4 linked regions of the Homo sapiens genome follow. The protein of the gene in region 2 interacts with the protein of the main gene of each other region in a pairwise test. Each region holds a gene or a part of one and is shown on either strand. Other genes may lie near its edges.

Region 1 (7,028 bases), on a different chromosome or scaffold from region 2:
ATTTTTAGTAGAGACAGGGTTTCACCATGTTGGCCAGGATGGTCTCGATCTCTTGACCTCGTGATCTGCCCACCTCAGCCTCCCAAAGTGCTGGAATTACAGGCGTGAGCCACTGCACCCAGCCTTCTTCTTTTCATTATAACCTTTATACCACAGTAAGCTGTTGCATCATTCAAATGACTCTGCATCCTATATTGAATATTCTCCATTATTCTCTAATATCTTTGGGGGTACCCAGGATTACAGGGTTCTGGGCATACATGTTAATGCTTTTGCCAGGACTTTTCTTTTTATTGTTGTGACCCATTGTCTTTGCTTATATTTAAAGTTTTTGATCTTGATATCATTGGTTCTTTCCTAAGTCACTTTTTCTGGTAACTGCTTTGGAATGAATCATACATATCTCACTTACGGAGCCTTCCTCTTTCTCCTCCATTTTTCTTGTCTTCATTTTTCTATTTTAAAGCTTTTATTATGGAAATTTTCAGAGTACAGTGAGAGAGAGACTAGTATGATAAACCCACGTCGAAGTCGAAGTTACGGCTGAGAGCGGCAGCTCACACCTGTCTCCTAACTTTGACTTTTTTTTTTTTTTGAGATGGAGTCCCACTGTCGCCCAGGCTGGAGTGCAGTGGTGCGATCTCAGCTCACTGCAACCTCCGCCTCTCAGGTTCAAGCAATTTTCCTGCCTCAGTCTCCTGAATAGCTGGGATTGCAGGCACCCACTACCAAACCCGGCTAATTTTTGTATTTTTATTAGAGATAGGGTTTTACCCTGTTGGCCAGGCTAGTCTGGAACTCCTGACCTCAAGTGATCCACCCGCCTCAGCCTCCCAAAGTGCTGGGATTACAGGTGTGAGCTGCCGCACTTGGCCCTAACTTTGACAGTTAACTTTATGCCATGCTCAGTGGCCCATGCCTATAATCCCAGCACTTTCGGAGGTGGAGGCAAGTGGATTGCTTGAATCCAGGAGTTCAAGACCAGCCTGGGCAACATAAGACCCCTATCTCTACAAAAAATACAAAAAAAAATTAGCGGGACGTGGTGGCATGTGCCTGTGGTCCCAACTACTCGGGAGGCTGAAGTAGGAGGATCACCTAAGCCTGGGAGGTTGAGGCTACAGTGAGCAGTGACTGTGCCACTGTACTCCAGCCTGGGTGACAGAGTGAGACCCTGTCTCAAAAGACAAAAACACAATTAACTTTATACTGTTCTTGTTTTATCTCTTTCCTCCTTTTGTTGTTGTTGCTGTTTATGATGGAGTATTTCAAAGCAAATTGTAGGCATGTCATTTCTTCTGTATATATTTCAGTATATGCCTCTAACAAGATACAATATTAAAAACTATAATATCTTTACCACTTCAAACAAAGATAACAATAATTTATTGTATTCTCTAATAGTCTATGTTCTTTTTTTCCTCCCCCTCAAAAATATCTTATGGTTGGTTTGCTAGAGTCAGGATTCAAACAATGTCTGTATATTGCATTTGTTTAATACTTCTCTTAATTCTCTTTATAATAGTCCTTTTTTTTCAGTATGGTTATCTATTTAAGGAACTGGGTTTTTTGTTTTGTTTTGTTTTTGTTTTTGTTTTGAGACTGAGTCTCACTCTGTGGCCCAGGTCAAGAGTGCAGTGGCGTGATCTCGGCTCACTGCAACCTCTGCCTCCCAGGTTCAAGCAATTCTCCTGCCTCAAGTCTCCCAATTAGCTGGGATTACAGGCACCTGCCACCAAGCCCCACTAATTTTTGTATTTTTAGTAGAGACGGGCTTTTACCATGTTGGCCAGGCTGGTCCCAAACTCCTGACCTCAAGTGATCCACCCACCTCGGCCTCCCAAAGTGCTGGGATTACAGGCGTGAGCCACTGCGCCCGGCCAGGAATTGGGAGTTTTTGTCCTAAAGATTTTCCCACATTCTGGTTTTGGCTGATTGACTCCTTTTGTTAATATTAATTTCTCTATCCACTGTATTTCCTAAAAACTGGTAGTTACATTTAGAGGTTTGATTAGATTCAATTTTTCCCCCTTGGCAAGAATATTTCATAAATGGTGCTCTTGCTTCCTATTACATCTCATCAGGAGGCACATGACAATCAGTTGATCTTAAGATTGACTGGTAGGTTATGTAAAGGTTTTGGCAACCATTACTGATCATAGCCTAGATCTATTTTTCATTAAGGCCTGCAAAATGGTGATATCCTAATTCTCTTGTTCCCTCTGTGTTTATTATGATTTTTTTTTTTTTTGAGGTGGAGTCTTGCTATGTTGCCCAGGCTGGAGTGCAGTGGCACCATCTCGGCTCACTGCAACCTCTACCTCCCGAATTCAAGCGGTTCTTCTGCCTCAGCCTCCTGAGTAGCTGGGACCACAGGCAGGTGCCACCACGCCCGGCTGTATTTTTAGTAGAGACGGGGTTTCACCATGTTGGCTAGGCTGGTCTTGAACTCCTGACCTCAGGTGATCCACCCGCCTCAGCCTCCCAAACTGCTGGGATTACAGGCATGAGCCACTGCGCCCGGCCTAATTGTGATTCTTTTATACAAGAAATACTTCTCTCATCAACCATAGGGTTGCCCTGAAATCGTCATTTCAGGAAAACCATCTCGTTTTTCTTTTACCTAGTACACATTATTATTCGAGCAAGCCAACCCACAGCACCTAGCCTTTTCTTTTTTATATTTGAAACCTCAGAGCTTTTCTCTCCTGTATTGGTAAATATCTTTAAAATTCTCCACGTTACCCAAATAAATGCCAGATGTATGAAAATTTAATTCATTCAGCGGCTAGTTACCACATACCTAGTATGTGTGGGGCATTCTGCAGGGTACTAGTTATACAATAGTAAACAAAATATAGTCTCTGCCTCAAATAGCTTATAGGCAGAATTAGGACCTTCATAACTATATATATGGTGCTGGAGTTGCACTGTACAGTGAGGTTAGGATGGGAGAAGTGACCAATTAATCAACCGGCAATTTTTTTTTTTTTTTTAATTTTTTAGACGGAGTCTCACTCTGTTGCCCAGGCTGGAGTGCAGTGGCACAATCTCGGCCCACTGCAACCTCTACCTCCTGGGTTCAAGCAATTCTCATGTCTCAGACTCCTGAGTAGCTGGGATTACAGGCGGCCACCACCACACCCAGCTAATTTTTTGTATTTTTGATAGAGACGGGGTTTCATCATGTTGGCCAGGCTGGTCTCAAACTCCTGACCTTAGGTGATCCACCCGCCTCGGCCTCCCAAAGTGCTGGGATTACAGGCATGAGCCACTGCGCCCAGCCTAAACTGGCAGTTTTTAAGTGTAGTACGTTCCAGTCTTGGGAGAAGTCAGAGAATATGTTTTAGAGTTTAAGTTGAGATGGGAGGGATGAATAGACATCATCTTGATGGAGAAGTAGGAGTTGGAAGAATATAACAGGCAGAAGGACAGCAGTGTGTACAAAGGTAGAAGGTAAGGGAGTAGAGGGCCTCTGTGGAACTGTAAATAGGGTTGAGTGTGATGGGACATGGGATGAAGAGATGGGCTGGAGAGGAAAATTGAGAGCTGGAAAGATAAGCTAGTCTCTTGAAAGGTCTTACAAGGCATGATTTTATCCTGGGGGCACTGAAGAACCACTGCATGGTTTGAAGTAGGGTATGACGTGATCAGATTTGTGTATTCAGAATATCCAGTAATAGTACATTTGTTCCCTAGAACCTAGGCACAAGTCTTGGAATTGGCCTCAGAGCATCCATGTATAATAGGTGCTGCCCACTTACAGCCTCAGGGAGACAGCATAACACAGGCTGCCTAAAAAACGAAAGACCTGGGTGTGGTGGATCATGTCTATAATCCCAGCACTTTTGGAAGCTAAGGTGGGAGGATCACTTGAGGCCAGAAGTTCGAGACAAGCCTGGACAACAGAGCAAGATCCTGTCTCTACAAAAAGTTTTTTAAAAAATTATCCAGGCATAGTGGTGCATACCTGTAGTCCCAGCTACTCCAGAGGCTGAGGCAGGAGGATCAACTTGAGCCCAGGAGTTCGAGGCTGCAGTGAACTATGATTGTCCCACTGCACTCCAGCCTGGGAGAGATCCTATCCCAAAAATCAAACAAAAAAAGGAAGTATGGTCTTCACTCCAGGAAGGCACAAAACCCAGTTTCATAATGGAAGCCCAAAACACTTAGAAAAATATTAACAACACAAAAGGGAAAGTGCTGTCCTGGATGTAGCTCAAAATCCTGCACTGTCACTTTTTCCTCATGGGTTTTTGTATATTTACAAACATACCCTCTGTCTGAGCCTCACTTCTTTTGTGTTTTCTTCACTTTTAGCATTATTCTCCTCCTCGTATCACAGGCATTTCCACTGCTTATCCCCTCCTTTTCTTTCTTCACTAGTTTGGGTCCTCCAATACCTTCAGTTTTTTTTCAAGCTGTGAGGCCCTCAGGGTTCCAGGCTTAGGCCTCTTCCTCATCCAAGGTCTAGGTAATAACTTGCTATTTCTCCAGTGAGTGAGGAATGTTGATTCCTTAAGAACTTTCAGGTGCCAGAGAAGGTGAAGGCTATTTGCAACACATGTCCGTTTCACCTTTTTTGGAGATCACCAAGCAGTATGGATCAAAGTCTACTGATGAACTTGTACTTCCTGTAAATATGCTCTAAAAATAAAAATAGCTTATCAAGAATATCAGAGAACAACCAAATCTGTTATCAGAAATTTTCATGAGAGGCTGGGTGCGGTGGCTAGCACTTTGGGAGGCTGGGGTGGGAGGATCAATTGAGCTTAGGAGTTTGAGACCAGCCTGGGCAACACAGGAAAACCCCATGTCTACAAAAAATAAAATAAAATTAGCTGGTCCTAGCTACTTGGGAGGCTGAGGTGAGAGGATCACTTGGGCCCAGGAAGTTGAGGCTGTAGTGAGCCATGATCTTGCCACTACACTGCAGTCTGGGTGACAGAGCCAAACTCTTTAAAAAAAAAAAAGAAGAAAAATTACCATGGGAAAAATATCAGAAACTACAAGTCACCTCTCTGGTTCAGGTGGACAATCTCTATTTTCCCTCATTATTGTGCCACATCTGAGAATTAGATGGAGGACTCATTGCACAGGCCCAACTGGGAACCCCAGGGCTTTTGGGCTGTCATACTTACTAAAGGTCATTCTAAATGGGGCTCCATATTTACATTGAGTTCACATTCTTGAACTCAAGAACCAGTATAAGAGATTCCCAGCTAGTTTTGACTACCTCTTAGAATGCTTTCCAAATCAAGGCACAAATAGAAATTACAAATTCTATAATATTTCTCATAAAGTACCTTTGCTAAGTTTGACTGCAAAGATCTGGATCTTGGCCTCCATTAAAAACACACTATTCTTAACTTTCCTGCCACACAGCATCAAATGGAATATGTGGTTTCTTTAAGGTTTAATTTTTTCTTTAGATTTTGTTTAAAAGTCTTTAAATTCCATATAATTAAACTCTTAAAAAAAAGTTTTTTTGGTGGATACAGTGTCTTACCATGTTGCCCAGGCTGATCTCAAATTTCTGGCCTCAAGCAATCCTCCTCCCTCAGCCTCCCAAAGTGGTGGGGTTATAGGCATGAGCCATGGTGCCCAGCCCAATCATTAAATTCTACTGTATAAATTACCTTCATCCAAATTAGGATCACCAAGTAAATACATCTCAAGCTGAAGAATTTATTTGATTAGATTTTAATAAGTTGTTTTTGTTCTGAATTTTACTGAATTGTTCCCATCTCATTTTTGTGTGTCTGAAAACAGTCTCAGTCTGTCACTCAGGCTGGAGTGCAGTGCAGTGGCATGATCATAGCTCACTGCACCCTTGAACTCCTGGGCTCAAGTGATCCTCCTCCCTCAGCCTCCCAAGTAGCTAGGACTGCAAGCATGTACCACCATGCTTAATTTTTAAAATTTTCTTGTAGAGACAGGGCCTCACTGTGTTGCCCAAGTGGGTCTCAAATTTCTGGTCTCAAGCAGTTCTCCTGCCTCAGCCTCCCAAAGTGCTGGGATTACAGATGTGAGCCACTGCACCCAGCCTCATTTTGTTTTTATATTAAAATGGAAGCCAATTTCATTATTTCAAAACTCCTTTGAATAGAGCCTTGTGTATAGAGTAGAATGTTAGTGGTAGTTGCCATTATGCAGGAGTCCCTTAGGCTTATCATTCTTTTAAGCCCAAGGAACCCCTAGATCTTTTATGAGTGGGTTTCAGCTCTCATATAGTACTTATAAAGGAACAGCTCCTCTTCCTATTTCCTTCTCCTACTTGAGCCTTCAGCCTATCCTTTGGCTGACACGTATAAGATTTTGGTTCCACCATTTCTGTTTTCCCTGTAAGTTAGAGATTCCTCTGTCACTGACTGATGAGTAGGTAACTACACAAACAATAGTTTGGCTTATAGACTCAGAATATTTGATTGCCAGAGTTAAAATGCCAGCCTTATGACATGGCTAAAGTGCTGTCCCAAGGCCACAGTGACATCTATCAGTCCGTGCATGTGTTTGCTTTGGAAGTAGATAGCCTTCATTCACCCCTGTAGTGCATTCTCCATCCTCCACTCTTAATACTTTTTACTATGAATTATTTTTTCTATAATTCAACTGTAACCTATTCTAGATTTGCTTTCAATCTTTTACAGTTACTAAACCAAGGAGATTTAACTGAAAGACGGACATGAGCGTGGGTGCTGACTCCTGGAAGAGCAACTCTATCTGATCTCAAAATGCGTATACTGGGAACAGGATGCCTTAGCCCACAACAGAACCAGAATGAATCTTTGAAGGCACAAGACTCTGCTTTTGCCACTCTTCCTCTTTCCTGGTATAGAAGATGGATGTAGGAGAGCTTCTTTTCTAACTACCATCTGATCAGACAAGGAATGAAGCAATGACTGTGGGCTGGGAAACTGTACCTACCTCTCTTCCCACTGCAAATTTCTGGGATAGACCAAAAGTGAATTTGATTATGTGTTGGCTGAAGTTCTTCATTCTGACTGTTGAGGGGAGGTTTTCCTTTG
Region 2 (7,028 bases):
AGTTTTAGAATTTAATTTCCTGTACAACTTTTTGTAAAATGTTCTGCTCCTATTTTAAATGTTTTGAAACATGCTAAATATTCTTTCCTAATTATTTTATCGCTTATACTGCCTTTTTTATAGCTTCAATTAAATAATTGGTTTTATGACTAAAAAAAAAAAAAAAAAAAATTGTTAAGAAAGACCAGGCCCGGTGGCTCATGCCTGTAATCTCAGCATTAATAGGAGTGTGAACTACTATTTTTCTTTCTTAAGTTCCGGGGTACATGTGCAGAACATGCAGGTGTGTTACACAGGTAAACATGTGCCACGGTGGTTTGCCGCACAGATCAACCCGTCACCTAGATATTAAGCTATTACTATTTTTCAATGTTCATAGATGCAATGAAATTCAACCTTACTGAATCTGTAGAACCTCTGTTTCTCACAGCAACAGATACTAAAAGTAAAACCACTCATGTAGAGGTCTTCAAAAACTCATTCTCCCAAGCTTATTGCTGTAGGCTGCTTCAATTGATACATCTTCGGCAACCATGCCAGTACACAGGAAAGGCTAAGTATAGTACTTGCATTCAATTAATAGATGCTCCATCACGTGCTCCTATTTCTCTGTTACGGCTTTTCATTATATTCTAAATCACCCTTTTTCTAAGCAACTGCCAAACCTGTGCTTTGTGTTTTCTTATACTGTTCATATCCCCAAACAGAATTTAAAGTTATAAAGGTAAACAATCAAAGTCAAATATATTCTGTACCCAGAAGAGCTTTGTAAAAGCTATTTCAGTTAAAAGTTGAAGTTTTTTACAAATGTAAAGTAAGATTACTAGAAGTGTGATTCCTAGTTAAGTGTGGCATTACCAGCCTGTGATTGAGCTCAGGAAAATTGTTCACTGTGTGCCAAGGGTTCCTACAACTGCTTTTCAATAATCCTCTCAGAAACTGAACTCAACAAATAATTTTCATTATAAAATACACTATAAAAAGCAGAGCTATAGTTATAGTAAACTGTTGGTTGTTTAAAGGTGATTTAGTTTACCTCAAAGAATTATTCTCTGCTTTTTGTCTGCCAAGTTCACTTTCGGTATCCATTGCCTTTCTTGCTAGTGATTTCATTTCTTTTTCCACAGTGCTTATGGTTTCCTTCATCAAAGTCATATTTGACATTTGCTCCATACGTTCATCATCAAGCTATACAAGTAGAATGACAAGGTTACTGCCATCACTAAAAACACCTTAGTAATCTTCCTGAAGGGCATACTCCCTCTGTACAAACTGGTTTATGGCAAGACTGACAGGATGAGATTATCAGGTTAGACCTGACTGCTGTAGAAGGTTTTACAGATAAGGTGTTGTGAAGTAGGACCAAGGAAAAGCCACTGCAAAGTAAAGCTTATCACAGTATATCAGTCTATATTTTTCAATCTGGTTCAATTTGACTATAGTATAAATATGCTGTTTGCAAAAGAATTTATTTGTTGCCCAACATTAATAAATTACACATATAATGTAGAATTATGAAAACAAAAATTATTTTCTCCTGTCTAGTAATTTTTTTTTTTTTTGAGACAGAGTATCGCTCCATCGCCCAGGTTGAAGTGCAGTGGCGCGATCTCGGCTCACTGCAATCTCCACCTCCCGGGTGCAAGCAATTCTCCTGTCTCAGCCTCCCAAGTAGCTGGGACTACAGGCGCATGCCACCACACCTGGCAAATTTTCATATTTTTAGTAGAGACAGGGTTTCACCATATTGGTCAGGCTGGTCTCAAACTCCTGACCTTAGGTGATCCACCCGCCTTGGCCTCCCAAAGTGCTGGGATTACAGGCATGAGCCACCGTGCCCAGCCCCTATCTCATATTTTTAACTCATTACAATAAAACAGTACAGATGAACTTATAAATATATTCAATTATATTTGGTAATAGAAAGTTAAATTCTCTTATGTTTATATAGTGACAATATCATCAATATATATTCGTAGCAATATCAAATCTGATTAGGAAAAAGGTGATGTTTCACATTTAAATTTAGTTTAAATAAACTTTGCTTATAATTTTTATTTCATCATAATTTTCTCTCCTTATCCACTCTTTAGGTAGAATAAACCATTTTCTTTACATCTGGCAATATTATCTTTAACAAAATATGGAGATGAGAAAGTAGATAAGATCCCTGAAAATGAATGCCTAATGATTTTTTTAAAGTACATACTTTGCAACCTAACACCAAAAAACATTTACTCACATTTTTAGAAGGAAATAAACAAATGAAAAAGTGACAATTTACACTATAAAATACCTTAAGTATTTTAGGACTATAAACACTATCTTAGAAAAATAAAATAACTTCTCTGAATACAGAAAAAGGAGAAAGGGGAAAGCCATTGAGTGTTTATAGCCAAAAGAGACTTTTCTTTTTTTTTTTTTTTACATTATGAACTGTACACTCCAGCTCCTCTATCCTTTGTTCCAGGTGAGCCTTCTCATTAAATGCTGTCTCTTGAGCAATCTGATTAAAAAGCAAAAACAAAATAAAGTGATTTCAATATCCCTGAATTTGTGTTTCACATATATTCACGTAAATAAAATCCTTTCCAACCTTTAGCCTCTCCCTTAGACTATCTCGTTCTGTGGTCATTCTTCGTAAATCAGTAAAGGCTACATCTCTTTCAGTCTCCACTCGCCGGAGAATAGCATGTGCCGTTGTTGATTTAGGACTCTTACAGCTTTTCATCATTTCTCGTCGAAGTCGGGTAATTTCTTCCTGTGCCTATTATTTAAATCATAGACTTTGGTTGAACAAGCTTTAGAACACATAAACATAAAAAATTTTATGTATCTAGCCAGTTAAAATGCAAACCTACATCAACATGCATGCAGCAGGGTAATGGTATCGCTTTTATTTTAAAATAAGCTTATACAAATAAATGAAAATGAATATATTTAAATAGAAGTTCATGTTACAACATCTTTGCCAAAAGTCTAAAATAAAATTAATTTGGAGGAAGTCATTGCAACAGAGAATGTTTTGCTAAGAAATATATTTGGTATACTCCATTTATTCATTTTGTAGTGTAAATTTAAATTCAGCACAATTTAGACAGACTACCGGTTTAATGAATATTATCATAGTGTTTCAGTCTTCCTAAATATAAATGCATATGCCATTCCTATGTCTTGGCTACTTCTGCCCTGACAGAAAGGCCCACCAATCCTTACTGATAACCCAACAGAGTCTCTGCACGTCTGTTCAACCATCCTTGGGTCCCAAATCTATTCCAAACCTGCAGATTATTTAATATCACAGTTCGCTGCACAGGTCTCTTTTCCTCTTGATTTTGATCACTGTCTATTCAGATAGTCTCCAAGCCCCAAAGGAAAATATATAACTTCCCAATTTCCACAGCTAAGCCTTCACCAGAACCCCAAACCTCATCTCCTAAAGTGTCTTCTAAGATCTCCCTGACTCAATTATAATTATTTCTTCTCATCTTGAATAGTACCCTCTCCACTGGCACTTTCTCCCCTGCCTTCAGTCATGTACAGTGCTCCCTTATCTTGAAAACCTGTCACTTGATCCTGCTGACCAATTTACCATCCTATGTCTCTTCTTCCTGCGACACATTAAAAAAAAAAAGTCCCATGGTCTATAACTATTGCCAATGGTTCCTTACCATCCATTCTATCACCCCAGAACAACCTGGCTCCCACCCTCCCACCTTCTGTGGAATTTCAACTAAAGACCTAACCAAATATAATGGTCTTTTCTCAGTTCCTGTTCTCCTTGATATTTCAGTGGTCTGTTGCTGCTCACAACATCCTTCTTCTTGAGATTCCTTCCTCCCTTTTAACATTGTTCCTCCCTAGCTGTCTGTCATCTTTGTCTCTTTCAAAGGTTCCCTTCTGCATCTTGAATATTATAACTTAACGTTTCTGCTCCTCTATGTACAGTTTTCTCATTCAGAGACTTCATCCACTCTGAAGGCTCGAAGCTCACCTCTAAGCAGATGACTTCCAAAGCTAACTATTTAACTCTTGCCTCTCTCTACTCCAGTCCCACATTTCTTACAGTCTGATGGCAATTACGACCTGAGTGTGCTATCATTATCTTACTCTGTCTAAAAACAAACTCACATCTTTTTCCTCAAACCACCAATGACTCTCCTATTTTTTATTTTATTACCACATTGCTGAGTCATTCAAGACAGAATTTTAGTCACTGTCATGCAACCCTCCTTCTTCCTAAAAGCAAATCATGTCAAATCTTCCTTCACAGGGTCTTTTGCATCTGTCCCTATATTTATCTCCATTGAAACACCCTTGCTTAGTCCCTTAATGCCTTATATGTGCACTAGTGTAACAGCCTTCTAAAGAGGAGTCCATGGTCTCTCCCTCCATCAATTCTCTCAAAGGAGAAATTGTTAAATAAGAAGACAGTATAGAAAGATTATGTGAGAAATAAAAATTTGCCATAAGGTTAAAATTGTAAAATTGTAAAAATGATACTTTGTTCATATTTTGCCTGCCTTTAAAAAAAAAAGATTGTTTGTTGCTTATGAAGCAAAATATAAACCCCATATAAGGCCCATTGAACAGCCTGTACCATTTAGTCCAGAAGTCAGCAAGCTATATATAACTCACAGGCCACATCTAGCCTGCCTCCTGTAGGTCTGTAAGTGGAGAAATATTTTTGCATTTTTAAATGGTTGGGGAAAATATCAAAAGAGTATTTTAAAACAAGTAAAAATGATGTGAAATTCAAATTTCAGTATCCATAAAGTTTTACTGTAATACAGCCAAAGTTATTCATTTATGTATTGTCCAAAGCTGCTTTCACCCTACAACAATAGGGCTGATTAGTTACAACAGAGACCACATGGCTTGCAAAGCAGAAGATATTTTTTGTCTGGGCCTTACAGAAAAAGTATATTGATTCCTGCTCTAGTGCAATCTTACCTTTCAAGTCTTAGCTCTCTCCCTTCTCCACTGACACATACCCTCTATTCTAGTCTTAAACCAATTTATTTATCTGCTGATTTTCCTACCTTTATCCTTTGCCTCATACCATTCCTTTAGTTTGGATTGTTCCTTCTAGCCCCTTTCAGGGTAATAGAAACTCCATTCATTTTTCAGGGCTCACACTTTGTATCTTTTAATAAAGATTTCCTTGATCACCATATCTAAAAATGCCCACTTCTTTTGTTTCTTATAATATCTTCTAGACCACTTAATAAAAATCAATAAATACAATATACTTTATCTCCCTAACTAGACTGTAAATTTATAGGAAAACATGGTCAGCATCTTATCATTTTTCTATCCCTTAGAGTAGTGAGCCTAGAACCCTGTGTATAGTAGCTATAATTTGTTAAAAAATTGTGATACTTTTAAAAGAAGTTATATGGGTGATTTATAGGATTTAATACTTGTTGGGTTAAAGAAGGTATTTGATTAATAAAAGCTATGCAATTCTAAGCTAGAAAGCAGAGATAAACTACATACTTCTTTTATTCTCTAAAATTAAGCAAATTATATAAAAGTTCCTAAAGTGATGTGATAAGGTGTGGCAAGTTCAAGGTAAAAAGGTCAGGATTTGATCTTTTTACCTTGAACTCATAACAACTTATCATTTAACGGTTTCTTCATATCTTATTCCAAAAATAAGACTATTTTTATACATGTGTATGATTTTTGGCTATGGGGATAACATACGTGTGTACTCACATACCTACTGTATTGGAAATGTACTACATTTCATTAAGAATATCTTAAAAACATATGTAATCCCCAAATGTTAGATTAACTTGATTTGCAGGTTTAAGCAGTCTCATAAAACTCAAAGAAGAATTACATAACTCTAGAACTCAATGTTATTACTTATATAATTTGTTTTTTGTAAGTTTACCTGTTCATAAAGAAGGAAGATCTTGTCTCTCTCAGATTTAAGAACCTTGACATTACCCTGAATTTCTGCCAAATGGCGCTCATATTTTTCCAGCATGCATTTAAGTTCTTCACGATCTCTTGTTGTTGTCTTCAAAAGTTCTACATCACAGTTTGCACCCTATAATTATATAAGGAATTTGAAATCTTCTTTGATATATAGTACTGATAGAAAGGTGCTACTGATGGTAGTGCCCAATTTCTATTTAAGAAAATAAGACTATATAATGAAAGGAAATTATAAAAAATAAGTTTAAAAACCACATCTTTTTAAAACAGCTTCATTCCAAATTATTCCACATTTGCCTGATTACCTCCCAAGTGCTAATTATGCTGAGGATAAAGAACCAATATCAGTAGTCTACTGTGCCATCAAAGAGACCTCTGTCTCTCAACCCCTTTGAAACAGCAATTCACAGCAAATCAAAACAAATTATTTTCAAATTAGGTAAAACAAAGAATAAAAGCCAGTGTCTGGGCAACAAACTCCAAAATATTTGTAAGTTTATAAAACCTACCCGGGCAGTTGGTGATGGGCGTCTTGGACTTTTAGACCTACTTCGCATCATCTTTCTCAAATGTTGAGCTTCACTCTTATAGTGATCTTTGTCTGCTTCCAAAGTCTTGACAAAGGAATCAAGTCTAGAAGGAGATTTATTTTGTGCTTTTTCAGTATCTAAAATTATCTTGCCAAAGAGGAAAAAATTAGACCATTATTTCAAGCTAAACTATAGCATCATTTTCTAAGTGAAATTGAAAACAAACAGGATCCTTAAAAACATTTAATTTGGTATTTTTTAAATACAACATTTAAAAAATTATATATCAGTAATTTTTAAAAAGCAGTTAGATATCTTTCTTTTCCAGGATTTCTGGGTATGCTATATTTTAACTGAAAGATAATTTTGGAGAAAAAATGGTAAAGAAATTTTAGAGAGGCCAGAAATGTCCACAGACCTAGCACACATCCTAGAAATGGCATGGATTTGCTTTAGAAAAACATATGCTACTAGGCTGGGCATGGTGGCTCATGCCTGTAATCCCAGCACATTGGGAGGCCGAGGCGGGCAGATCATGAGGTCAGGAGT
Region 3 (7,028 bases), on a different chromosome or scaffold from region 2:
AAGAGAATAGCAATAGCTTGAATCCAGGAGGCGGAGGTTGCAGTGAGCCGGGATCCCGCCACTGCACTCCAGCCTGGTGACAGAGTGAGACTCTGTCTCCAAAAAAACAATAAAAAATAAAAAAAAAAAAGAAACATGAGAGACTACCTACTGTTACCGTAGGAGACAATAAGGGAAACATGAAGGAAGGAGGACAGTTTCTAGGAGCAAAGACTGTCCTCAAGTAAAAGTCTGCAAAGCAACAGAATCTCAGTACTGCAATGACAAGGAACTGAATTTGGCTAAGAATCTTAATGAGCTTGGAAGCAGATCTTCCCCAGAGCCTCTAGTAAAGAACAGAGCCCCAAGCAAAGCCTTGATTTCAGCCTTGTAAGGCTCTAAACAGAGGACCCAGATAAGCCTACACAGATTTCCGACCTACAGAAAACTGAGATAACAAATATTTAAAGCTAAGTTCATGGCAATTTGTTAAGGCGACAAGAAAACTAATACAGATGGCAGGTTCCAGGAATAAATGTATTTCAAAGTAGCCAGAGCAAAGGATGGGAAAGGAAAAAACAGAAGACAAGTTAGGGATGAAGCTGGTGAGGCATATAGGGTCTAGGTTATGAAAAATTAAGAATTTATTATGTAAGCTATGAAGAGATGCTAAAGCTTTAATTTTGTGGGAGAGATGATGGATAATGACAAATGACAGAAATGTTGTTAACTGGGGATGAGGAGGAGAAAACAGGCAGGGAGATTAATGAGGAATGTACTATGAACATCTGGGCTACAGATGATGAAAGCCTGAACCAAAGCAATGAGAACACAAAAAGGCAGAAAAAACAGTATGCTTTTGGTATATTTCAGAAGCAAAAAAAGGTCTTCATTCCGGACTAATAGTGGGGATTACAGAGCAGTCACTGATGACTCAAAGTGTTTTAGCATCAGTAATTTGGTGGATGATGATGTTCAACAATCAATATAAGGAATACAAGAAAAGCATAATATTTTCTGGGGGCTGAAACTGGAAGCAAAGGGGAAATATATTTTCCTCTAATGGCAAAATAATGGAGGACAAAGTTAAGAATTTTAAAGCAGCAAGAAAACACAAATAACATTTATTTCGTTAGGCTCGATTACCTCTGCTGTTGCTTTCTGGATAGGCAAGTGTAGGCTTACTTGGGGAGCGTCGTAGATCACTATTAAGGAAAGGCTTATCCGAAGGATATACTACATATGGAGATGAAGAATGCCGAACCATGCTTCCATTAGACCTTGATGGCTCAGCAAAGCTGTTCTAAAAAATAAAGACACAAATTACCTTTCAAAAGTGTGAACCACAAATAGCAGATTTAAATCACAAATATTTATGACTGAGATTGACTGTCCATACAGACAACAGAAAAAATCCACTGACTAGAAACAATACAATTCAATCATTAAAGAAATACAACTTTTAAAGTGTTTCATATTAGTCTGAATATAGCCATATGCCAGACACAAGAAGAAAATAATGTTCATACAACTTGAATACAAATGCTGTGCAGAAATACTTAAATGATACAATGAATGTAAATACCGCAGTTAAAAATATATACTGTGAAATATACGTTCAGAAAAATAAAAACATTATTTTTACAGGACCAGAAACTGCTACAAATGACTGAATTACTCTATTCCCCATCCACAAACTACTACTTGAATATTTATAGTATTCAAAACTCCAGAAAGAAAATAAGGCACTGTCCTTGCCTCAAATACTTTACATTTAATTAACAAAAAAGAAAATAATTAGAAAACATTAAGGCCCATCAAACACTCAAACATAAAACTTTATTTCCACAGTACACCATTCTGTCATGAATGAGATTCTGTTAAATTTAGGATTCCACATAATAATTTCAACCCAGGAGATGCTAACTGTGGAGTTTTATTTGTTGTAGGCGACTTCCTACTGACAGATGGTCCTAGACTGGGGGAAGTAACTAAGAAGCTGAGGGCTAAGGTGGAAGATATGACTACCAGCTATTCAAAATGTTCATCCACTTTCCTTCCTCAAACGGCCACAGCAAACTATGTTTTTCAATTCTTACCTTTGAAGATTTACATTTACCAGAATAATCCGTGTTCATAAAAGTACAAGAGCACAATGAATATTTAAAACAGTAAACAATCTCCTGAAACAAAGGCTATCGAAATACCTGCACTGTATTTAAATCTTATTTAAAATTAAAGATTTTACTTCCATGTTAAAAATCATGCAAATTTCCAGGTGATTTAAGAAAGCAAATATAAAACATTTTCTATTTATATAAATATAAAACACACTATGGCTATGACAATCAAAAGTGGGGACAAAGAGCTTAGGAGGGTAGGGCCAAGTCTTAAAAGTGGTACTCAAATAAATAAGTGCTAAGTCTACTATAGTATGTTCATATATAACAAAGACTAGTATTTGTCATTTTCCAAACTTAATGGCAAATTGGCATCTGGTTTTACAGGTAACTGGAAAATAGGATGAGTTTTCAATTCTTTATAATATTGTCAAAGGTCTTGCAAAGCATCCTCAATTACTGCATAGCTTAATTTTAAATGTCACAGAGAACCTCAAGTTTTCATTGGTTATTTACAACCCACCAGAATCCTATCATTTAATATTCAAAAATATTAAGTGACTTGCCGACCACCCTCTGCCCAGTCAGGGGAATCCCATTAACTATGTGATTAACTAACAAACTAGTTCCCCAAATGGAACTACCTCTGTTCTACATTTTGTATGTTAGTGGGCTTGCCCTTTACTATTTTATATCACTCCTCATGACATATACATTTTTATTATCTGTATGCCCTGTGGTATAATAAAAAATATATTTAGTCTTTTGTCCTTGGTTTCAGATACAGATTCAAAAACTCCTAGAATTTCTTAAGTGATAGGGTATCCTTGTTAGGCTGATGAAGGGACTCAAGGTAGGGCACCTAGGTAGCTTCAGGTTTGAAGGCATCTTCTGGAAGCTGGTTGCCAGAAAAACCAACCACTAGATTATAAAGAGCTACAGATTTCAGCCAGGCATGGTGGCTCATGCCTGTAATCCCAGCACTTTGGGAGGCCGAGCTGGGCGGATCACTTGAGGTCAGGAGTTCGAGACCAGCCTGGCCAACATGGTGAAACTCTGTCTCTAACTAAAATACAAAGAAATTAGTCAAGTGTGGGGGTGTGCCCTGTAATCCCAACTACTCAGGAAGCCAAGGCAGGAGAATCACTTGAACCCAGGAGGTGGAGGTTGTGGTGAGCCAAGATTGGGCCACTGCACTACAGCCTAGGCAAGAGAGTGAGACTCCGTCTGTGTGTGTGTGTGTTGGGAGGGGGGTGGGGTGGGGGGGAAGAGTCACAAATTTCAGCCCTAGGCCCTGACCTTAGGGGAGGTAAGGGACAGATTGAGCCCAGTGACCAGCGGACAATAATTTACTCAATTATGTATTTATGTAATGAAAGCTCAATGAAAACTCTTGAATAATGAGGTTTGGGGAGCTTCTAGATTGTTGAACATACTGATATGCTGGGAAGGTGCTGCACCAGAGGATACAGAAGCCCTTTCACACCTTGCCCTATGTCTCCTCCATTTGGCTGTTTCTGAGTTGTGTCCTTTATAAAACTGAAATTGCTTAAGAACAGTCTTTCCTGAGTACTGTGAGCCGTTCTTGGAAAGCTGCAGGAATCCCATAATTTGTAGTCAGCTGAGCAGAAATGCAGATGCTCTGCGAACTCTGACTGACTTGGGGGCAGGCAGTCTTGTGAAACGGAGCCCCTTAATGTATGGGGGTCTGAGCAACATCTGGGCAGTGTCAGAATTAAAATAATTGTAGTACACCCAGTTGGTGTAGAATTTTTGCTGGAGAAATTAAGTTCTAATAAAGGAGTTTTATTATGTTCAATAAATCTGTTGAATATTAACTATACATTTCCTCCGCAAAACAGGAAACTGCACATTACTTATAAAAGATTATCCTTTTCAACAAAATCACTACAACCCTTTAAGAGATCACCAAAAGCTTTTGGGCTTCTTTATATTTAACAAATAGCACAAATATCATAGGAAGGCTGCGTAGAAAGGAGCCCAATTCTAACTCCCAATCCACTAATCTCTCCATGACCCTAAGCATTCAGTAAAAATTATTCCAACCAAAATATGATTGTAGGAGAAACTTTCAGGATTAAAGGCAAAATGTTTAACCTGATCACTAGCTTTTCCTGCAGCCTTTAGTTCTTAGGGCAAATATCTCATTTAGGAACACATAATTCAAATATTTATTGAACATCTTTTTATGACACTGTGTGAAGTATGAAGCATAATTTAAAAATGCATATTACTTGCTTTCTTTATAAGTGGCACATGCAACACAGCTGCAAGATATTACCTAGATAAAACTCAAATACAAAACAGTAGGTGGGAACTGGTAAATTGGATGTAATAGAGACTAAGTGCAAATTAAATTCAGATGCATTCAACAGAACACTGCTTCAAAACAGTATGGTAAAGGAAGGTCTTTATTAGTGCTGAAATCGATACTGGGTCTTGTAGATTGACATGTATTCTGATAGGCAAGCTAGAAATGGATATAAAAGGCAATTATTTCCAGGTTAATGAATACATCAGTTTAGCTGAAAAAAAGAGTTTGTGTACACATGTTGAGGAAATAAAATTGGAGAAGTCAAGGTCCAATGGTGGAGGAACATGATGTACAGCTCTGAGCAGTGCAATCAATGCAACAGTTCCAAACTAAATATCAATACGATCGTCAACAAATGTAGAAAAGCATTCAATAAAATTCAACATCCAGCCATTATTTTTTAAAAAACTTACTTCCTTATGATAATATGAAGTTTTACAAGAAAAGATGGCAAACATACTTAATGGTGGAAAACTTGAAATATTCCTTTTAAAATCAGGAGTAAGACAAAGATACCTACATCAATTCTGGTCAACATTGTACTTCATTTCCCTAGTCTGCACACTAAGAAAAAAAAAAAGAATAACAGCTATTAAGATTGAAAAGGAAGAATCCCAATTTCGTATCATGACTAAATAGAACAAAACAAAAAATCCTCAATTATGAGAATTAAGTCTGGAAGATTGCTGAGTAAAATAGATATGTAAGAGTCAGTAATTTTATATATTAGAAAATGCAACTTATGAAAATATATATCACACAATTAAAAACTAGAAATAAACTGAACAATATACAAGACATGAAATTATACAAGTACTGAAAAATGTTAAAGTTCTAAATAAATGGAGTAACATAACATTCAGACAGAAGGGTCAATATCCTAAACGTATCAGTTACACCCAAATTAAGCTAGAAATTCAATAAAATCTAAACCAAAATTCCAACAGCAGGTTCCAGAATTTCTACTGAAGAAAAGCAAAGGACCAACAATAGCTAATATTTCTCTTGAGTAACAAGGAGGTAAATGACCCCCCCACCTCCAAGTGGGTATCTAAGTAGGAGAGACAAATACAACAAAGGGACAAAGAGCCAGGTAACACACCCATACACATATGGAAATGAACATATTGCAAACCATTGGGGATAGGATGAATTTTCAACAAGTAGTGTGGGGACAATTGTGTATTTTAAGTAAAACCGTTACACTGGATCCCTATCTCACAGCATACAAATTAATTTCAAGTAAATTAAGGACATAAAAGGCTTCAACTTTAAAATAAGTAGGAAAAAAATATAGAAGAATACAACCAAGGCCTTGGAGAAAGGAAGAATTTCTTAAACAGAAATCACTAATTATAAAAAGACTAACAAATTTTACATTAAAAGTAACAACAACTATTAATCGAAAGATATCAAAGACCAGCCAAGATGTCTCTGGAACAGTCTTAACAGACAAAAACAGGCAAAGGACATGAACAGGTATTTCACAGAAGAACACACACACACACACTAGTAAAGGTTTGAAAAAAACAGGGTGCATACTCACCAATGATAAGAGGTGCACAAATCAGAAAATAGGATACCATTTCACACACACAGCAAAAATTTACAAGTGGGACGATACCATCCATTTAAGAGGACATAAAATAAAGAGGGTTGTTGGTATAATCACTTGGTAAAACAATTTAGTATGACCGAGTAAAGCTGAAGACGCACATACTCTGTGAACCAGATAATTCATTCAGTTATATTTGCTGAACGATTTTCTCTCTCTTCTTTCTTGAAAATGATACGGGTTGAGTCACAGTACATATTCCATGACCCACTACTGAGCTGTAATCCAGAGCCCAGCCTCTGGTCTGGAAAAAAAAAAGAAAAATCACTGCCCTAGAGTTGCCCCTTGCAAACTTTTTCTCTCAGGACCCCTTTACACTCTAAAAGATCTAGTGAAAAGAATGGCACTATTTTACATTTCTGCAGATCTCTTTAATGTTTGCTTTAAAAAAAGAATGCTGGATTCTCTTATCTAGTTCTGCATTCGCTCTGTTGGATATGTTATTTTGTTTGACTTATTAAAGATCTAGTCTACCACAAACGTGGTCATTACAGAAGGATCTTGTAGACTCTGAGAGGGTCTTGGAGATCTCCAAGGGTTGTGAGACCATACTTCGAGAACTGCACTCTAGAGAAACATTTGCCATGTACAGCATATAACAATGAATACAAGATTGTTTCTAATATCTGGCAAACAAATGAACAGCAAAACCCATTAAATCCAAAGCCCATTAAGATACTGTCATTTACTAGCTAGAGAACTTTGACTCAACCTCTCTGTGCCTCATTTTGCTCATTTGAAAAAGGAAATATTAATGCCAATCTCAGAAGGTTATTGTGAGGATTAAATGAGTTAATGCATGAAAAGGGTCTTTAAGGATTATGCCTTGCCAGGTAGTCCTATATAAATACCATACATTATAATCTTAAAATACGTGGTAGTGGGTGGGTGTGGGAAGGAGAAAGAAGACACAGAGGAACATGAAGGTATTCATTTTATTATTCTCAAAAAGTAAATCTTATATTTAATATTATAAAAT
Region 4 (6,838 bases), on a different chromosome or scaffold from region 2:
ACCCTCCCTCAAACCCACATCCTCTCCAATTACCGGCTAATGTCTCAACTCCACTTTGCAACAAAACTACCTGGAAGATTTGCCTAACTGACTCCCTGTCTTCACCCCGTGTTTTATCTTCCACCTACTCCAGTCAGATTTTGTCCTTTAAGGCTTCTGTGACCATGCATTCTCCTGGGGTTTCTCCTACCTTCTCAGTCCTTCTCAGTCTCCTTGCTGGCTTCACCTCTCACCCCTCTAAACACTGCTTTGACCATCCAAAGCCTCAGAACATCTCTCTTCTGTCTGTACTCTCTTCCTAGGGGATTTCATCTAATCCCATGGCCTTGAATAACATCTATTATACCCAATGGGTCTCTTCTGTCCTCTCTCCCCACCAAGCTTCAGATCACACTATCTGACATACTCATATCTCAAATGTAAGATGGCAAAACAAGATCTCATGATTCTCCTCCACCCCAAACCGGCTCTTCCCATCTCAACGATATGAATGCTATCCACTCAGGTGCCCAAGCCCTGAGGAGTCATCTTTGCCTCTTCTCTTTCTCCCACAGACTATTCAGTCCATCATGAAGGTGTGAAGAGCCTATTTCCTAAACACAGCCTGAATGTGACCACTACTCCCTGTCTACTGTGCTACCACCCTCAGGCAAGCCACTTCTAACTCCTGCCTGGAAGAGGGCAACAGCCTCAGCTGCTCTCCTGCCTCCCCCTGCAGTGGCCACCTACAATCCAATCTCCTCACAGTGATCGTTCTAAAAACACACACCAAATCATGCCATTTCCCTGCTTAAAACCCTCCAATGACGTTTCACTGGGCTTAGAATAAAGTATGAAAATTCCTCACCCCGGCTCACAAAGCTTTGCGGCATTTACCTTTCTCCTACCTGTGACCTCTCCTCATGCCACTTTCTCCCTTGTGCACCACATTCCAGCCTTCCTGCTCCTTAAACTCCAAGCTCTTTTCTGCCTTAAGCCCTTGCCCTGGCTGTTCGCTCTTCCCGAAATGCTTTGCCAACTCATCATCACATGATGTCTCCTTCTTGTCATTCAAATTTTACTTTAAATGTTGCCTATTCAGAAACACCATCCCGATCTCCCAGTACAACCAAGCCACCCAGTCACTCCATGTCACATCACCTTATTTTAACTTTCTGCACAGTAGTAACCACGATCTGATATTATTATTTGTGTTTTTTACTTATTTTCTACTCCCTTCCCTCTCCTATTAGATTGCAAGCTCCATGAGCACCTAGAACTTTTCTGTTTTTTGTTCCCAATGCCTAGAACAACGTGTGAACGTGTGGCACACAGGAAAATTGTAATAACATCAACTGATGCAGTTATGAGCCAGAGAGGCCCACTGACAGCAAGACTCTGATGGCCCCAGCCAACTCCCCAACTTCACATACACACATATGAGGCAGGGCAATAGAACCGCAGCAAGGCCCTAGTCCTTAGGTCTGTAAATCTCACCCATCAGTATTTTCAACTATTATGCAAGAACCCAAACCAGAAAAGGAGGTTCCGGGGTTTTCTTGAAATAGGCTGCTTTATTCCTAACAGTAGTAGTTCTGACTCACAGTCGCCGAGGTACACCCAGTCAGTACTAGTCAGACCACCGTCCAGACCTTTGGCGAGCTGATTCATTCAGTGAACAAACATTTACCGAGTGCCTACTTGCTGTCCGGCACTGGGGCAAGGGGTCAAAGGCAGTGTCTGGCCTCCCGGAGCTCAGCAGGCAGAGGGAAACACGCTGCAACACAGACTCCCGCCGGAGTGGGAAAGCAAAGCCTGTACTGGCATAGGAGCCTGACCCGCGCCTTCACTTACTGCGCCCCAATCTGACATGGACTGATCCTACAGACCCAGGGTAACCTGGCTGGTGCGCCAACACTCCGGGGCTTTTGCGGAAAAGTCGCCCGTGGACTAACGGAAGCACCAGCAATCCCCCGGTTCAGCTCCGGCCGAAGAGACGCGGAGCGCTCGAGGAAAGTCATTGGTTGACCAGTTCCCTTCCCCACCCCCTCCCTCCCCGCAGGCCCGCGCAGTGGATGGAGGCCGGGGGCGAGGTTCCGACTCTCCAAGACCATCCCAGAGCCTGCGGCGGGAGAGGGGGCGTCCTCCTAAGCGAGATTCCCCTAGTCTCTCCCTCTCCCCACTCCAACCCCGCAGGCCCACACCAGGACAGAACTTCTCGTTCTACTCCTCCCACCCGAGCCCATCCAGGTCCCGGCACTCGCCTCTCCCGGCGGGGCGCAGCCCCAGACCCTAGAGGGGAGGCGTGCCCAGCCCGCACACCAGCACCCGAATCCAGCCGGATTGCAAGGTCCAGGGCGCAGAGTCTGCGGCCTCTTCCCCCCCGGCCCAGGTCCCCAGCGTAGGTGCGGCCCCCACCGCCTTCCTCTCGGAGGCCGCCAAACAACTTGGGCACACAAAACGTTGAGTGTGGCCGCGGCGCAGCGCGCGCCAACGAGCCCGGGCCGGCGGGAGCAGAGGAAGGGCGGGGCGCCCGGCGGGAACGGGGAGGGACCCCCCCCCCGCGGCACAGGTGCGAGCGCGGCGGCCCCACTCACTCACTCGATGAAGTAGCTGGCGCCCTCCTCCGTGAAGCCCTCCTCCCAGCCGCGGGGCAGGTCTGCGGAAACGCCAGAAAAGTCGGGTCAAACTTGGGCCGCCGCTGCGCGCGCCCCCCACCCGCCGGCCCGGCGCCCACCTGAGCGGATCATGTGGCCCGAGTTGACGGGCTCCCCGGTGCGCGGATGCAGCCAGGTCGTGCAGCGGAGCTGGTCACTGCGGGCAGAGAGGTGCACCTGTTAGCGCCGCCACAGCCCGCCGGGTGCCCGCCCGGCCCCCGCCCCCGCGCCCCCACCCGCGTCCCCGCGTCCCCGGGTCCTCGCGCCGCACTTGATGAAGAAGACGCGGCCATCCCGGCACACCCCGTAGGACCAATGCTCAGGTAAAGTGTCCCGCCCGACCGTCGCCGCCGCCATGTTCGCCGAGCGCGGAGCCGCCGCGGGGTGGGGGGGAGGGGGCGGGGGCGCGGGCAGGGGCGGAGGCGGGGGCGGTGGCGGGGGCTCGGCCTGCGCGTGGCCCGGCGGCGCCGCGAGGCGCTCCATCCAGGCGCGGGCTCCTGAGGGAGCGACCGCCCGGCCGGGTCCTGGCGCCCGGAGTTCGCAGCCGCTCCGGCCAACCCAGCGCAGTGCCCGCGGCCTTTGTCCCCGAGCCTTCCCCGCCCCCAGCCTGCTGGCACCGGCGCTCCCCTTTGCCCCCGAGGCCGGGAGACCCGGGCGGCGCGGGGGGCCGCTGGCGGGGGCCGCTGGCGGGCGCGCCTGGGCAGCTTCGGGGCGCGCGGTTGGACCCGACCAACTCCGAAAACGGCGAGCGCCCGAACGCTCAGTAAACCCCAGCCGACCCGCACCACAGAACTTCCCGACCCGGGAACTCCGCTTGTGTGTGAACCAAGTTAACACTCAGGTTCCTGCCATATTCCCAGCCTCCTTCTCTTCCCCTGTAAGGTTAATCGAGTCCACACGGGATTGTTGTGTAGATTAAATGAAGTAACAATCGCATAAAGTGCTTAACCGGACCATGGCATGTAGTAGGTGCTCTATCAACGGCAGGCCGAGCGCGATTTCATTTTCCCAAGTTTTCAGCTGGGATGTGAAACAGGAGGGAGCAGGGTTACCGCCACACACCACTGAGGTTGCAGGGATCGCAAGCTCTTGCCTTCAGTTTCTGTCAAGTAACAGAAAAAAGGGGTTTTGAGGGCTCGGCAGCACGTCCATCTCTGGAAGAGCGGTGGCCAGGCGGGGCCTCTAGGGGGCCCTGCAAAGCTCTTTGCAGTGGCGGCACCCTCTCATATTCGGGTCTTTACTCCTATCTTATCTCCTCGGGGAGCCCTCCCTGAGCCCTCTGCAAAGAAAATCCTTCCCCTCCTTCCCTCGCTATTTCATTACTTGTTTACATTTAATTGATATTTGTGTTTGTCTTGTTTGTTGTATATTAGTTCCAACATGTCAGCTGGATGAGAGAAGGGGCTTTGATCTACCTCATACACTGCCTGGTCTCCAATGCCTGGAACAGCACCTGACTCATGTATGCATTACGCATTCAATAACTGTAGGATGGGGTGGGGCACGGTGGCTCAGGCCTGTAATCCCAGCACTCTTGGAGGCCGAGGCGGGTGAATCACTTGAGGTCAGGAGTTCTATTCCAGCCTGGCCAACATGGTGAAACCCCGTCTCTACCAAAAAAATACAAAAGCTAGCCGGGCGTGGTGGCGGGCGCCTGTAATCCCAGCTACTCAGGAGGCTGAGGCGGGAAAATCGCTTGAACCAGGGAGGCAGAGGTTGCAGTGAGCCGAGATCGCGCCGCTGCCCTGCAACCTGTGCAACAGCGAGACTCAGTCTAAAAAAAAAAACTGCAGGATGAGTGAATGAAACATACTCCACACTCAGACTCCCGGCCACACACACACACACACACACACACACACACTGAGCAAAGACAGAGCAGCAGCTGGGCTCCAGCTGTTGTCAGGCCCAGCCTTCTCGGGACATAGGCTCTGATTGATGGGAGGAGGCGCGCCTGAAAGTGAGACTGTATGCAATGTGAGCACTAGTTATTCAGAAAGGTGCCCAAACAGGTGGAATTAGGCTGGACCCTGAAGGACTGGTTAGGTTTGACTGGGAAAAGAGCACTCCAGAGGGGAGGGATGGGAGAGCATGCACATAATTTTGGGAGGGCTGTGAGATGTTGATGAGACCATAAAGGGGCCCTTCCTTGGGAACAGACAGTGGTGTTGGGGAAGGAGGCATTTATGAGTTAGAAGAGGTAACTGGTTGCAGAGGACGGGGGACACCTGTCTGAAGGAACCTCCTGCCTCTGAGGAGGTTGTTGAGCAAATGAAAATAGGAAAGCGGTGTTTTGCTAGCTAAACATTGATTTTAAATAATACATTAAATGGGCAAAGGGTATGAACCCACAGTTAATAGAAAAGTAATACAGATAACTTTTAAGCAAATGAAAAGATACTGAGCCACTTCATAATAGAAGAACTGCAACTTACGGTGAAATACTATTTTTTTAGATGTCAGATTGGAAAAGATAAATTAGAAAAGATATTGGCCAGGCGTGGTGGCTCACGCCTGTAATCCCAGCACTTTGGGAGGCTGAGGCGGGTGGATCGCTTGAGATCAGCAATTCGAGACCAGCCTGGCCAACATGGTGAAACCTTGTCTCTACTAAAAACACAAAAATTAACTGGGCATGGTGGTGCATGCCTGTAATCCCAGCTACTTGGGAGGCTGAGGCAGGAGAATCACTTGAACCCTAGAGGTGGAGGTTTCAGTGAGCAGAGATCACGCCACTGCACTCCAGCCTGGGTGACAGAGTGAAACTCTGTCTCATAAAAGAAAGAAAGAAAAGATATTGTAGAGAAAGACATTCTTGTTCATTGTTGATGGGACTTTAAAATGTTTGAGCCTCTTCGAAGGCAATTTGGCACAGCTATTCCAACCTCAATGTCTTGACCTAGCAATTTCATGTCAGGAATTTATCCTACATTAGTGCTTACATGGGGCACAAATTCCAGTGTACTAGAGTATTCACTGCAGCATTGTCAGTAATTACAAAGAACTGGAAATAACCTTAATGTCTATCAAAAAAGACCTGGTTGATTAAACTGGCACATTCCTCAACAACAACAACAACAAAAACAGAATGCTATGCAAGCTGTAAAAAAGAATGAGAATAGATCCCTACGTACTGATATAGAATGGTCTGTAAGATATTAAATGGGCCAGATGCAGTGGCTTGTACCTATAATCCCAGTACTTTGGGAGGCTGAAACATGAGGATGGCTTGAGTCCAGGAATTCAAGACCAGCCTGGGCAACATGGCAAAACTCCATCTCTACAAAAGATACATTAGCCAGGCATGGGGCGCATACCTATAGTTACAGCTACTTGGGAGGCTGAGGTGGGAGGATCACTTGAGCCCTGGAAGTTGAGGCTTCAATGAGCTATGATTGGGCCACTACACTCTATTCTGGGTGACAGAGCAAGACATCATCTCTAAATAAATAAATAAATAAAGTGAAAAGGCAGGCTACAGTACTGTGCATGTGATATGCTACTGTTAACATACAGATATAGTCCCTACACTGTCAAGAATCAGGTAAAGTGATTGCCTCTGAGGAGGGAAACTCTAATAGGAATGGTACGAGATTTACTTTACCTTGTTTCCCCTTTCATACTGTTTGATCTTTTTATCATTTAAAACATATACATATAGATACATAGAATAATACAATTCATTAATAGGTCCAATAAGAGACACACTGAAATTATCTCAATAAATGCCAAAATATGTAATCAATAAAACTCAATGCCTATCACTGATTTTCAAAATTATATGTTAGAAACTAAAATAAAAAATAGTGACAAAAGAGTATGCAGAGAAACTTTATGTCTCATACATTGCTAGTGGGATGTAAAATGGTACAGCCACTCTGAAGAATAGTTTGGCAGTTTCTTTAAAAAGGAAACTTTTTTTTTTTTGAGCCAGAGTCTCACTCTGTCACCCAGGCTGGAGTGCAGCAGCACAATCTCAGCTCACTGCAACCTCTGTCTCCTGGGTTCAAGCAATTCTCCTGCCTCAGCCTCCCGAGTAGCTGGAATCACAGGCATATGCCACCAAGCCCAGCTAATTTTTGTGTTTTTAGCAGAGTCAGGGTTTCACCATGTTGGCCAGGCTGGTCTTGAATTCCTGACCTCAAATGATTCACCCACCTCAGCCTCCCAAAGTGCTGGGATTACAGGTGCAAGCCACTGAG

The links.
Region 1: the proteins of TSGA10 (region 2) and ZNF410 interact in binary tests that used the Homo sapiens proteins (3 or more experiments, as listed by UniProt).
Region 3: the proteins of TSGA10 (region 2) and CEP57 interact in binary tests that used the Homo sapiens proteins (3 or more experiments, as listed by UniProt).
Region 4: the proteins of TSGA10 (region 2) and PLEKHA7 interact in binary tests that used the Homo sapiens proteins (3 or more experiments, as listed by UniProt).

What each region holds. Positions count from the first base shown.
Region 1 is NC_000014.9:73,924,853-73,931,880, forward strand, and holds part of ZNF410 (zinc finger protein 410), read left to right. Parts: intron 1-2,254; coding exon of another isoform or gene 2,255-2,376; intron 2,377-6,650; coding exon 6,651-6,689; 3' UTR 6,690-7,028. UniProt on the Homo sapiens protein: Transcription factor that binds to the sequence motif 5'-CATCCCATAATA-3', and is specifically required to silence expression of fetal hemoglobin in adult erythroid cells.
Region 2 is NC_000002.12:99,102,931-99,109,958, forward strand, and holds part of TSGA10 (testis-specific gene 10 protein), read right to left. Parts: intron 6,627-7,028; coding exon of another isoform or gene 6,510-6,626; coding exon 6,459-6,509; intron 6,062-6,458; coding exon 5,903-6,061; intron 2,768-5,902; coding exon 2,597-2,767; intron 2,507-2,596; coding exon 2,429-2,506; intron 1,189-2,428; coding exon 1,037-1,188; intron 154-1,036; exon of another isoform or gene 1-153. UniProt on the Homo sapiens protein: Plays a role in spermatogenesis. When overexpressed, prevents nuclear localization of HIF1A.
Region 3 is NC_000011.10:95,793,486-95,800,513, reverse strand, and holds part of CEP57 (centrosomal protein of 57 kDa), read right to left. Parts: intron 6,294-7,028; exon of another isoform or gene 5,981-6,293; intron 4,999-5,980; exon of another isoform or gene 4,973-4,998; coding exon of another isoform or gene 4,955-4,972; intron 1,283-4,954; coding exon 1,126-1,282; intron 1-1,125. UniProt on the Homo sapiens protein: Centrosomal protein which may be required for microtubule attachment to centrosomes. May act by forming ring-like structures around microtubules. Mediates nuclear translocation and mitogenic activity of the internalized growth factor FGF2, but that of FGF1.
Region 4 is NC_000011.10:17,011,409-17,018,246, forward strand, and holds the start of PLEKHA7 (pleckstrin homology domain-containing family A member 7), read right to left. Parts: upstream 3,007-6,838; 5' UTR 2,994-3,006; coding exon 2,908-2,993; intron 2,794-2,907; coding exon 2,717-2,793; intron 2,639-2,716; coding exon 2,581-2,638; intron 1-2,580. UniProt on the Homo sapiens protein: Required for zonula adherens biogenesis and maintenance. Acts via its interaction with CAMSAP3, which anchors microtubules at their minus-ends to zonula adherens, leading to the recruitment of KIFC3 kinesin to the junctional site.